3 linked regions of the Homo sapiens genome follow. The protein of the gene in region 1 purifies or fractionates together with the protein of each later gene. This does not show direct contact. Each region holds a gene or a part of one and is shown on either strand. Other genes may lie near its edges.

The links.
Region 2: the proteins of SLC5A5 (region 1) and ARF4 purify together in Homo sapiens (affinity purification with western blotting; one study listed by BioGRID). This does not show direct contact.
Region 3: the proteins of SLC5A5 (region 1) and RHEB purify together in Homo sapiens (affinity purification with mass spectrometry, with the first as the bait; one large-scale study listed by BioGRID). This does not show direct contact.

What each region holds. Positions count from the first base shown.
Region 1 is NC_000019.10:17,870,358-17,874,107, forward strand, and holds the start of SLC5A5 (sodium/iodide cotransporter), read left to right. Parts: upstream 1-1,587; 5' UTR 1,588-1,962; coding exon 1,963-2,319; intron 2,320-3,400; exon of another isoform or gene 3,401-3,592; intron 3,593-3,750. UniProt on the Homo sapiens protein: Sodium:iodide symporter that mediates the transport of iodide into the thyroid gland. Can also mediate the transport of chlorate, thiocynate, nitrate and selenocynate.
Region 2 is NC_000003.12:57,587,291-57,590,940, reverse strand, and holds part of ARF4 (ADP-ribosylation factor 4), read left to right. Parts: intron 1-3,650.
Region 3 is NC_000007.14:151,509,748-151,513,397, forward strand, and holds part of RHEB (GTP-binding protein Rheb), read right to left. Parts: intron 1-3,650. UniProt on the Homo sapiens protein: Small GTPase that acts as an allosteric activator of the canonical mTORC1 complex, an evolutionarily conserved central nutrient sensor that stimulates anabolic reactions and macromolecule biosynthesis to promote cellular biomass generation and growth.

The sequences.
Region 1 (3,750 bases):
GGAGCAAGAGGACTGTCCGGGGGTTACGTGGGGACGCGTTGAGAAACGCTGGACCCAGCTGGAGCGGCCAGGGCAGAGGGTAGGCCAGAGGAGGCCACCAGGGAGCAGCAGAGGCTGGCGAGAAGCGCTCAAAAGCCCTTTTTTTTTTTTTTTTTTTTTTTTTGGAGACGGGGTCTTGCTGTGCTGCCCAGGCTGGAGTGCTGTGCAGTTCTCGACCACAGCTCATTGCAGCCTCGAACTTCCACGCTCAAGCGATCCTCCCACTTCAGCCTCCTGAGTAGCTGGGATTACAGGCATGTGCCACCACGCCTCGCTAATATTTGTATTTTTCATACAGACAAGATCTCACTATGTTGCTCAGGGTAGTCTCGAATTCTGGGACTCAAATGATCCTCCCACTTCAGCCTCCCAAAGTGCTGGGATTACAGGCATAAGCCATCATGCCCGGCCTCTGACGCTGTTTCTTTCAACCCCCAGGATTTCAGATTCCACCAGCTTATGGAGAAGGGAACCAAGTTTGAGATGCGTGATTGCCCAGAAAGTTGGAGGCTGAGCTGAGACTTGAACCCAGAGACCAGAACCTCCAGAGGTCAAAGTCCTCCTGGGTCCCCCAGAGAAGGGCCCTGAGATGACAGCTCGTTGGTCCTCATGGAAGCGTGACCCCCCCAGTAGACTTTCTCCCACACCCAACCTTGGTTTCCTCATCTATATGATAGGGACAAGCCAGACTCTACCTCCCTGGTGGTCATGGTCTCCGCTTATTCGGGTTCATAACCTTAAAGGCCCCTCGCACCACCTCAGTGAGCCATTTATGCCTGGCACAGGGCCAACTCTCAGTGCATATCTGCAAAGGAACCAATGAATGAATGAATGAAGTGACAAATGAATAAAGGAATAAATGAATGAGGCACTTATCATGTACCAGGCTTTCGTTACCACGTCCCATTTATTCCTCTGAGGCAGGGTCTATTTTATCCTTGTTACAGATGGGGAAACTAAGGCCCAGGGAGGAGCAAAGTCTTCCCCAAGTATGTACCCACTCAGAACTTGAGCTCTGAATGTCTCCCACCCAGCTTAGCCCAAGAGCGGGGTTCAGTGATGCCCACCCCCTAAGGCTCTAGAGAAAGGGGGTAGGCCCACATGCCAGTTTGGGGGTGGTAAAGCCAGGTAAGTTTTCTTTATGGGTCCCCTGAAACCCTGAAAGTGAACCCCAGTCCTGCATGAAAGTGAGCTCCCCATAGCTCAAGGTATTCAAGCACAATACGGCTTTGAGTGCTGAAGCAGGCTGTGCAGGCTTGGATAGTGACATGCCCTCTCTGAGCCTCAATTTCCCCACCTGTCAACAGCAGACAGTGACAGCTGTGATCAGGGGATCACAGTGCATGGGGATGGGTGGGTGCATGGGGATGGAGGGGCATTTGGGAGCCCTCCCCGATACCACCCCCTGCAGCCACCCAGATAGCCTGTCCTGGCCTGTCTGTCCCAGTCCAGGGCTGAAAGGGTGCGGGTCCTGCCCGCCCCTAGGTCTGGAGGCGGAGTCGCGGTGACCCGGGAGCCCAATAAATCTGCAACCCACAATCACGAGCTGCTCCCGTAAGCCCCAAGGCGACCTCCAGCTGTCAGCGCTGAGCACAGCGCCCAGGGAGAGGGACAGACAGCCGGCTGCATGGGACAGCGGAACCCAGAGTGAGAGGGGAGGTGGCAGGACAGACAGACAGCAGGGGCGGACGCAGAGACAGACAGCGGGGACAGGGAGGCCGACACGGACATCGACAGCCCATAGATTCCTAACCCAGGGAGCCCCGGCCCCTCTCGCCGCTTCCCACCCCAGACGGAGCGGGGACAGGCTGCCGAGCATCCTCCCACCCGCCCTCCCCGTCCTGCCTCCTCGGCCCCTGCCAGCTTCCCCCGCTTGAGCACGCAGGGCGTCCGAGGACGCGCTGGGCCTCCGCACCCGCCCTCATGGAGGCCGTGGAGACCGGGGAACGGCCCACCTTCGGAGCCTGGGACTACGGGGTCTTTGCCCTCATGCTCCTGGTGTCCACTGGCATCGGGCTGTGGGTCGGGCTGGCTCGGGGCGGGCAGCGCAGCGCTGAGGACTTCTTCACCGGGGGCCGGCGCCTGGCGGCCCTGCCCGTGGGCCTGTCGCTGTCTGCCAGCTTCATGTCGGCCGTGCAGGTGCTGGGCGTGCCGTCGGAGGCCTATCGCTATGGCCTCAAGTTCCTCTGGATGTGCCTGGGCCAGCTTCTGAACTCGGTCCTCACCGCCCTGCTCTTCATGCCCGTCTTCTACCGCCTGGGCCTCACCAGCACCTACGAGGTACCGGACAGAGGCCCGGGGGTAGGACCTGCCCCACTGGCAGTGCTGGGACCCCGTGTGGGGGAGGCGCTGGGGCTTTGGGCCGCTGTACAGGAGGACGCGGATGGCACCTCGGTGCTTTAACGGAAGGGGCCCCTAGGCAGACACGTGGGGAGGGTTCTAGGAAGAGGCCCCAGGCGCCCGGCGAGGGGCAGGAAGGAGGAAGAGAGAGCCTGGCGTCCTGCTCCTTCGGTGGAAGCGCGCGCGGGGCGGGGCCCGGCTCGACCAGGTGTGTCCTCACGGGTGGACACACACCTGCCCCCCACCTGCCCGGGCGTGCAGACCCACGTGTGCGCGCTAGAGGGGACTGCTGACGGCTCCGGGGTTCGAAACCTGGCTTCACTGCTTTCTTGTATCTTGGGCAAGGGGCGTGCCTCTCTGTTTGGGTTTCCCAGCTGTCCAATGGGCGAATTACAGGACCTCCCTCCAGGGGAGAGGGTAAAGCGATTAAAATCGTGACCGGGGCCCGGTGCGGTGGCTCACGCCTGTAATCCCAGCACTTTGGGAGGCCAAAGCATGCAGATCACCTGAGGTCAGGAGTTCAAGACCAGCCTGGCCAACATGGCGAAACCCCGTCTCTACTAAAAATACAAAAATTAGCCGGATGTGGTGGTGGGCACCTGTAATCCCAGCTACTTGGGAGGCTAAGACAGGAGAATTGCTTGAACCCGGGAGGTTGCAGTGAGCCGATATCGCGTCACTGCACTCCAGCCTGGGCGACAGAGCGAGACTCTTGTCTCAAAGGAAAAAAAAATATTGTGGCAGGGCGCAGTGGCTCACGCCTGTAATCCCAGCACTTTGGGAGGCCGAGGTGGGTGGATCACGAGGTCAGGAGTTCAAGACCAGCCTGGCTAACATGGTGAAACCCCGTCTTTACTAAAAATACAAAAATTAGCCGGGCATGGTCGCGCGCGCCTGTAATCCCAGCTACTCAGGAGGCTGAGGCAGAAGAATTGCTTGAACCTGGGAGGCGGAGGTTGCAGTGAGCCGAGATCGTGCCAGTGCACCCTAGCCTGGGCGACAGAGCGAGACTCCGTCCCCCCTCCCCCCCAAAAAAATCGTGACAGGTATATCCTAGGCGGCCAACACCATTGGCCCGGGGCACTGTCTACACTGTGCGCTTGCGGGCCACGTCGGTGTCTGCTGAGCGGTGGCTGCTCCAGGAGCCCGCGCCCGTCAGGCGCAAGTGGGAGGGCGCGTGCACACGCATGGACCAGTCCTCCAGGTCCACGGGGTACGCACAGGCACGGGATGGCACCTGTGCACGGGTGTGTGCGTGCGGCGGGGCCCCCACGTGCAAGAATCTGGCGGGCGCGGTTGGCTTCCGGAGGGAGGGGCCCACCTAGAGAGCAGACCAGGGACCCGAGAGGCCTCGGCTCCTGGGTAAGGACT
Region 2 (3,650 bases), on another chromosome or scaffold:
GTAAATATTCAATTTTAAATTATTATTTTAAACTATTACGCAGCCTGGGCACCATACCATGGCAAGACCTCATCTCTACAAAAAAATTTTAAAAATTAGCTGGGCATGGTGGCGTGCCCCTGTAGACCCAGCTACTAGGGAGGCTGAGGTGGGAGGATTGCTGGAGCCCAGGAGTTTGAGGCTACAGTGAGCCATGTTTGCACCACTGCACTCCAGGCTGGGTGACAGATCGAGACCCTGTCTCAAAAAACAAATGTATATATATGTACACACACACACTTATAATTATGAAGGTATATTTCAAACTTGTAGATAATTTGAAAGATAAAGGAAAACATGAAAAATCTTTTTATCCATCTGAAAATACTCTTTTGTCTTTCCAGTCTTACTCCTTTCTGCAATATTTTTTTCTCCCTCAAAGTTGAGATCATTGGATCTAACTTTTTTCTTTTTTTGAGACGGAGTCTTGCTTTGTTGCCTAGGCTAGAGTGCAGTGGCGCAATCTCGGCTCACTACAGACTCCGCCTCCCGGGTTCAAGCGATTCTCCTGCCTCAGCCTCCCAAGTAGCTGGGATTACAGGCACCCGCCACTGCGCCCGGCTAATTTTTGTATTTTTTAGTAGAGACAGGGTTTCACCATCTTGGCCAGGCTGGTCTCAAACTCCTGACCTCATGATCCATCCACCTCAGCCTCCCAAAGTGCTGGGATTACAGGTGTGAGCCACTGCACCCGGCCTCAATTTTTCATCACTAATTATGATACTAGCTGTAGGTTTTTTATAGATGTTCTTTTTTTGTTTTTTGTTTTATTTATTTATTTATTTATTTATTTATTTATTTATTTATTTATTGAGACAGAGTCTTGGTCTGTTGCCCAGGCTGGAGTGCAGTGGCATGATCTCGACTCACTGCGCCTCCACCTCCCGGGTTCAAGCAATTCTCCTGCCTCAGCCTCCCGAGTAGCTGGGATTACAGGCGCCCGCCACCATGCCTGGCTAATTTTTGTATTTTTAGTAGAGATGGGGTTTCACCATGTTGGCCAGGCTGGTTTCAAACTCCTGGCCTCATGATCCACCCTCCTCGGCCTCCTAAAGTGCTGGGATTTCAGGTGTGAGCCACCGTGCCCGGCTGGATCTAACTTTTTAAATTTAAAATGTAAGTATTTCTTGCTGCCATAATTATGGGCAAAGGTTTGTTTTTTTGGGTTTTTTGTTTGTTTTTTTGAGACGGAGTCTCGCTTTGTTGCCCAGGCTGGAGTGCCGTGGCGCGGTATGGGCTCACTGTAACCTCCACCTCCCGGGTTCAAGCGATTCTCCTGCCTCAGCCTCCCAAGTAGCTGGGTTTACAGGCGCCAGCCACCACGCCTAGCTAATTTTTGTATTTTTAGTAGAGACTGGGTTTCACCACGTTGGCCAGGCTGGTCGCGAACTGCTGACCTCGTGATCCACCCACTTCAGCCTCCCAAAGTGCTGGGATTACAGGTGTGAGCCACGGGGCCCGGCCTTGTTTGTTTGAGACAGGATCTTGCTCTGTTGCTTACGCTGAATTGCAGTGGTGTGATCATGGCTCGCTGCAGCCTTGATCCCCTGGGCTCAAGGGATCCTCCTGCCTCAGCCTCCCACGTAGCTGGGAATATAGATGGGCACCACCCTGCCTAATTTTTGTTTGTTTTGAGACAGGGTCTCAATTCTGTTGCCCAGGCTGAAGCACAGTGGTGCGATCACAGCTCACTGCAGCCTTGACCTCCTGGGGTCAAGTGATCCTCCCATCTCAGCCTCACCCAGTAGCTGGGACTACAGGCATGTGCCATCACAACCGGCTAATTTTTTTTTTTTTTTGAGACGGAGTTTTGCTCCTGTTGCCCAGGTTGGAGTGTAATGGCGCGATCTCAGCTCACTGCGACCTCCGCCTCTCAGGTTCAAGCAATTCTCCTGCCTCAGCCTCCCGAGTAGCTGGGATTACAGGCATGTGCCACTACACCCAGCTAATTTTGTATTTTTAGTAGAGACGGGCTTTCTCCATGTTGGTCAGGCTGGTCTCTAATTCCTGACTTCAGGTGATCCACCTGCCTTGGCTTCCCAAAGTGCTGGGATTACAGGTGTGAGCCACTGTGCCTCACTCACACCTGGCTAATTTTTGTATTTTTTGTAGTGACAGGGTTTTGCCATGTTGTCCAGGCTGGTCACAAACTCCTGAGCTCAGGTCATCCACCTGCCTCAGCCTCCCAACATGCTGGGATTACAGGTGTGAGTAGAGACGGGCTTTCTCCATGTTGGTCAGGCTGGTCTCTGACTCCTGACTTCAGGTGATCCACCCGCCTTGGCTTCCCAAAGTGCTGGGATTACAGGTGTGAGCCACTGTGCCCCACTCACACCTGGCTAATTTTTGTATTTTTTGTAGTGACAGGGTTTTGCCATGTTGTCCAGGCTGGTCACAAACTCCTGAGCTCAGGTCATCCACCTGCCTCAGCCTCCCAACATGCTGGGATTACAGGTGTGAGCCACCATGCACAGCTTCCCAGCTAATTTACTTTTTCTTCTTTAAAGATGGATCTCGCTATGTTGACCAGGCTGGTTTCAAACTCCTGGGCTCAAGCGATCCGCCTGCCTCAGCCTCCCAAAGTGCTAGGATTACAGGTGTGAGTGACTGCCTGGCCAGCAAAGATTTCTGAGGTAGTTTTCCTGCTATAGTAACACTTTGGTCAAAGTGCAGGTCTAGTTAAGGAGAACAAGTATTCCAGTACATCTTTAAATACAGTTGCTTGTTTCTGGACACGGAGGGGAGGGAGACCATTGCTGGGCTATACAGATTAGTCTTATCTTGGCTAGTTGAAAATTGGTAATAGTTTTCATTTTGTGGAGAAATTTCATTGCCAAATATTGCAACATTAAGGAAATACATAAGAAATGACTGAAGTGGCTCAAAATTGTTGGACCAATATGTTTTTGAGTAAAGAACTATAAGTTTTAAGTGATGACTGTATATGTTTAATTCGTGCATTAAAGCTTATAAATACCTTTTTCAAAAACTCTTAATTTGCATTTATACAGCATTGTTATTTTTGATACAACTGCATAAGATACATTCTGTGTTGCTGTGAGCCATTAAACTGTTGTCTTGTAATTTATATTTAGAAAATAATTTGTGGATACTTAAAAGTCATTATGGGCGCATTATTTTTTCCCCTTGAATTCTGGGGTGACCTAGAAATGGTTGCATGATTTTGTAAACACTTCCCTTTTTAAAAAAGTAAAATGAGTATGTAAAATATTATATATTTAAAGCCCTCAAGCAGTCGTCTTCAAAAAGATACATCAGGAAATGTAAACAGCCCAACATTTTAATTAAAAAAAATCTGCTTGGACAATTTTTTTTCTCTTTTCATAAAAGTAATACATGATTTTTGGGTAAAAAAAAATTCCTATCAGTAGAGGAGCAAGGAAAATAATTATTCATACAGTATTCATACAAGCACATATAAAACCTATTAAAAGAAAACTTGGATTACCTACATGCTTTTGTATAATTTAAAATGATATAGTCATGATTTGTCTTGGATTTCTTCAATTCTTTTCTTTGTCAGTATTTTTGGATTTACTTTTTTTTTTTTTTTTTTTTTTTGAGACTGAGTTCCGCTCTTGTTGTCCAGG
Region 3 (3,650 bases), on another chromosome or scaffold:
AGTGGTTGGAAAAAGAAACAGTATTTCATGATACTGAAAATCAGATGAAGTTCAAGTGTTATATCCATAAATAAAGTTTTACTAGCACACAGCCACACCCACTCGTTGATGTATTGTCTGTGGCTGCTTCCGTCCTACAAAGGCAAAGTAGAATAGCTGCAAGAGAGGCTACATGGCCTGCCCTGCAAAGCTTGAGATATTTACTATCTGGCCTTTTACAGAACAAGTCTGCCAGTCCCTGGTATAGATCATCGTCTTATTTGTTGCTTAAAACCCTTCAGTCACTTCCCACAGTTTCTAGGAAAAAGTCTAAAACTTTTCACAGAGCAGACAAAACTGTTCTTGAAGGACAGTTGGCAAACACATGAGTCCCGACCTCTCTCATTACTCACACCTCACCCTTCTCATTCACTCAGTGAGCCACACTGCCTTTCCTTTAAAGACAATTCTCCCACCACCCCCATCCCCACTTGATGATCAAGTTAGCCCTGCCTTTGATTATTTCTCTCAAACACCTATCCCAACTGTATTTAAGTAACAATCGTGTAGTAGCTGATTAAAGACTGCCTGCTCTGGAGCCACTGCCTGAGTTCAAAATCCTGGCTTTGTCACTTAACAACAGTTTGACATTGGGCAAGTCACATAAACTTTTTGTACTTCAGTTTCCTTATCTGCAAAATAGGTGTAACAACTGCACCTACCCGAGTTTAAAGGCTATTAATACATGTGCATTAAGATTGTACCCCATAACAGTAAATGCTTCAAAAGCACCAACAATTATTATTCTCAGTAGCAGGAACAAGTTCCTGTGGCTCTCAACTAGACTGAAGCTCCTTGAGGGCAAGGATTATAACTGTCCTAGCTTTTGTGACTGGTACAAAGTAGAGCATTTATTCAAATGCTTAATGAACACCTAATTTGAATAACACATAACACTCACAAACTGTCCTCTTCAACCAACAGTTGCAGTGATTCAATCTTTGGGGGCCTGGCCCAAATGTTCTCTTTCAAACAAATGCCAAATGTGATTGAGATTTTAAAGCCAGCAAAATACAGGTGCAGTGGCTCAGCCTGTGATCCCAGAACTCTGGGAGGCTGAGGTGGCTGGATCGCTTGAGTCCAGGACTTCGAGACCAGTCGAGGCAACAAGTAAGACCTCATGTCTACAAAAAAATAAAAAAATAGCCAGGGCATGGTGGCACACACCCATAGTCCCAGCTGCTCGGGAGGCTGAGGCGGGAGGATCCTTGAGGCTGGAAGGTTGAAGCTGCAGTGTGCCGAGATCGCGACATTGCACTGCAGCCTGGATGACACAGTGAGACTCCGTCTCAAAAAATAAAAAATAAAAAAAAAAATAAAGCTAGCAAAATAGGCAGACACATTTATATCTAAGACACAGAAGTCTTAGAAAAGCATTTCATCTCATAAAACTGTATTAACTGTAAAAGCCCATATTTGCATCCCCATTCACAAATTATGTACTATGCCATCAGGTAGTTATTAACATTCAACTCTCAATCCTGCAAAAGGTGGGATGGTGTATCTTGCTAAAACACCAACTTCTCTTTCAAATGTCCATGAGGAGTCCTTCTGCAAACATGTAAGCACAACAAAAAGAGAAATGCGGGAGAGAAAGACTCAATTCTACTACAGATAAGACGCAAACCAAGCAAGCATGACACTTCGGAGTGAATTCTATCACTATCTTTAAACTGCCCTGCTTTCTTAACTTGCCCATAAGAGCACAACGTAAAGGCTTTTCTAGCACTTCCTGTTCTAAACTAATACCAGTTTAGATTTAAAGCTCCAATCCTACAGGAACTCCTTTTTTTTTTTTAATAACCAGAAGCCCAACATATATTGAAGAAAATTAAAATACTAAAATAGTATTCCAGAACCTTTAAAATGTTAGATTTCTTTTTTTTTTTTTGAGATGGAGTCTTGCTCTGTCGCCCAGTGGCGCGATCTCGACTCACTGCAACCTCCCCCTTCGGGTTCAAGTGATTCTCCTGCAGGCCTCAGCCTCCCTAGTAGCTGGGATTACAGGCGCCCACCACCACGCCCAGCTAATTTTTGTATTTTTAGTAGAGACAGGGTTTCGCCAGGTTGGCCAGGCTGGTCTCGAACTCCTGACCTCAGGTGATCCACTCGCCTTGGCCTCCCAAAGTGCTGGAATTATAGGCGAGAGCCACTGCGCACAGCTGATTATATTTAAAAATCAATCCAGCAATTCATGTTAAAAGGACTCAGCAGTTTGCATTCTCACAGTTAGCAAGAATGACGTGACGAAGATAGACCGTGAGTACTGTATCAATGTTAAGATTTCATTTGGTACTTCAGAATAAATTAGAACTAAGAATGAAGGTTCCTTCAAGTATGATCCCTAAAGATTTCATAATACTCTCACTTGCACAATCATGTGCAAGTTCAGTTCTGATTTATTCAAGTAACTAAGAACAATCCAGCCATGGACACTATTACAGTTGTTTGCGAACTTGTTATTCTGAATCTTCACCCAAGAAAAGCATTGTGCATCTCTGACCTTCCACAATCACAGGTAGAGGTGGCAGTGTCTCATTCTGTGATAAAGTTGCTATTTTTACTTGTGTACTCCTCCCCACCTTCATCCTGATACTCGTATTTAAAAACTATATTATTAGTATATGGGTCTCTGGTATCCTGCTACTCTTTGCAATTTTCACTACTCTCTGGGAGCCTCGCCATCACCAGGTCCAAACACAACTCATCCAAAAATGCAACACAATCAGAGGCCAAACCAATAGGCACACAGATATCATAACTCTCCTGATGTTCTCTGGCCTCCCTCGTGCTTCCTTCCATTCTAACCACGCCAAGTTCTTTCCTGCCTTGCCATCTTTGTCTCTCACAACGCTACAGGGCCTCTCCTAGGAGGCTCTTCTAACACTGTGGGAACCATATCGCTGTGAACAGCATTTAGGATGCAGTCACTGTCAATTCGATTTTGCACAGCAGTGAACAAGATCCTAGCTTACAACAGTTTAATGGTTCTCAAAGGGTGGTCTGTGGACCTCTAAGGGGTTTACCAAAATCTTTTCAGGGGTCTCATGAGGTCAAAACGATATTCATAGCAATATTAAGTTATCATTTGCCTTTTCCACAAAGTTCCCATTTGTACTAAGGGTGCAAAAGCAATGGTAGGGAAAACTGCTAGCTCGGCACCCCTTGGCATGAATCAAAAACAGTAGTTACAAACTGAGTGGTAAGTCACTGTATTCTTTACTACCATGCATTCACAGTGGGAAAAGAGCTGTTTCTACTTAACAGTGTCCTTGAAAAAGCAGTAAAATTATATTAAATCTTGACCCTTTGGTACCTGTCTTTTTAATATTCTGCACGACAAAATGAGATGTACACATAAAGCACCTCTGTTACATACTGAAGTATGATGGTTGTTTCCAAAAAAAGCACTTGTGCAGTCATTTGAGAAGTGATCTGAACTGGCCACTTTTATCATGGAATGCCTTTTTTACTTGCAAGAATGATGACAAACTATCATTATTGCAAATGTGAATAGCTGGCAGACATTTTCTTGGAAATTAAAGAAACAAAACAGTCAATTCAAGTAAAAACTGGTAGCATGTTGCCAAGGAAATTATTTGAACTCAAGG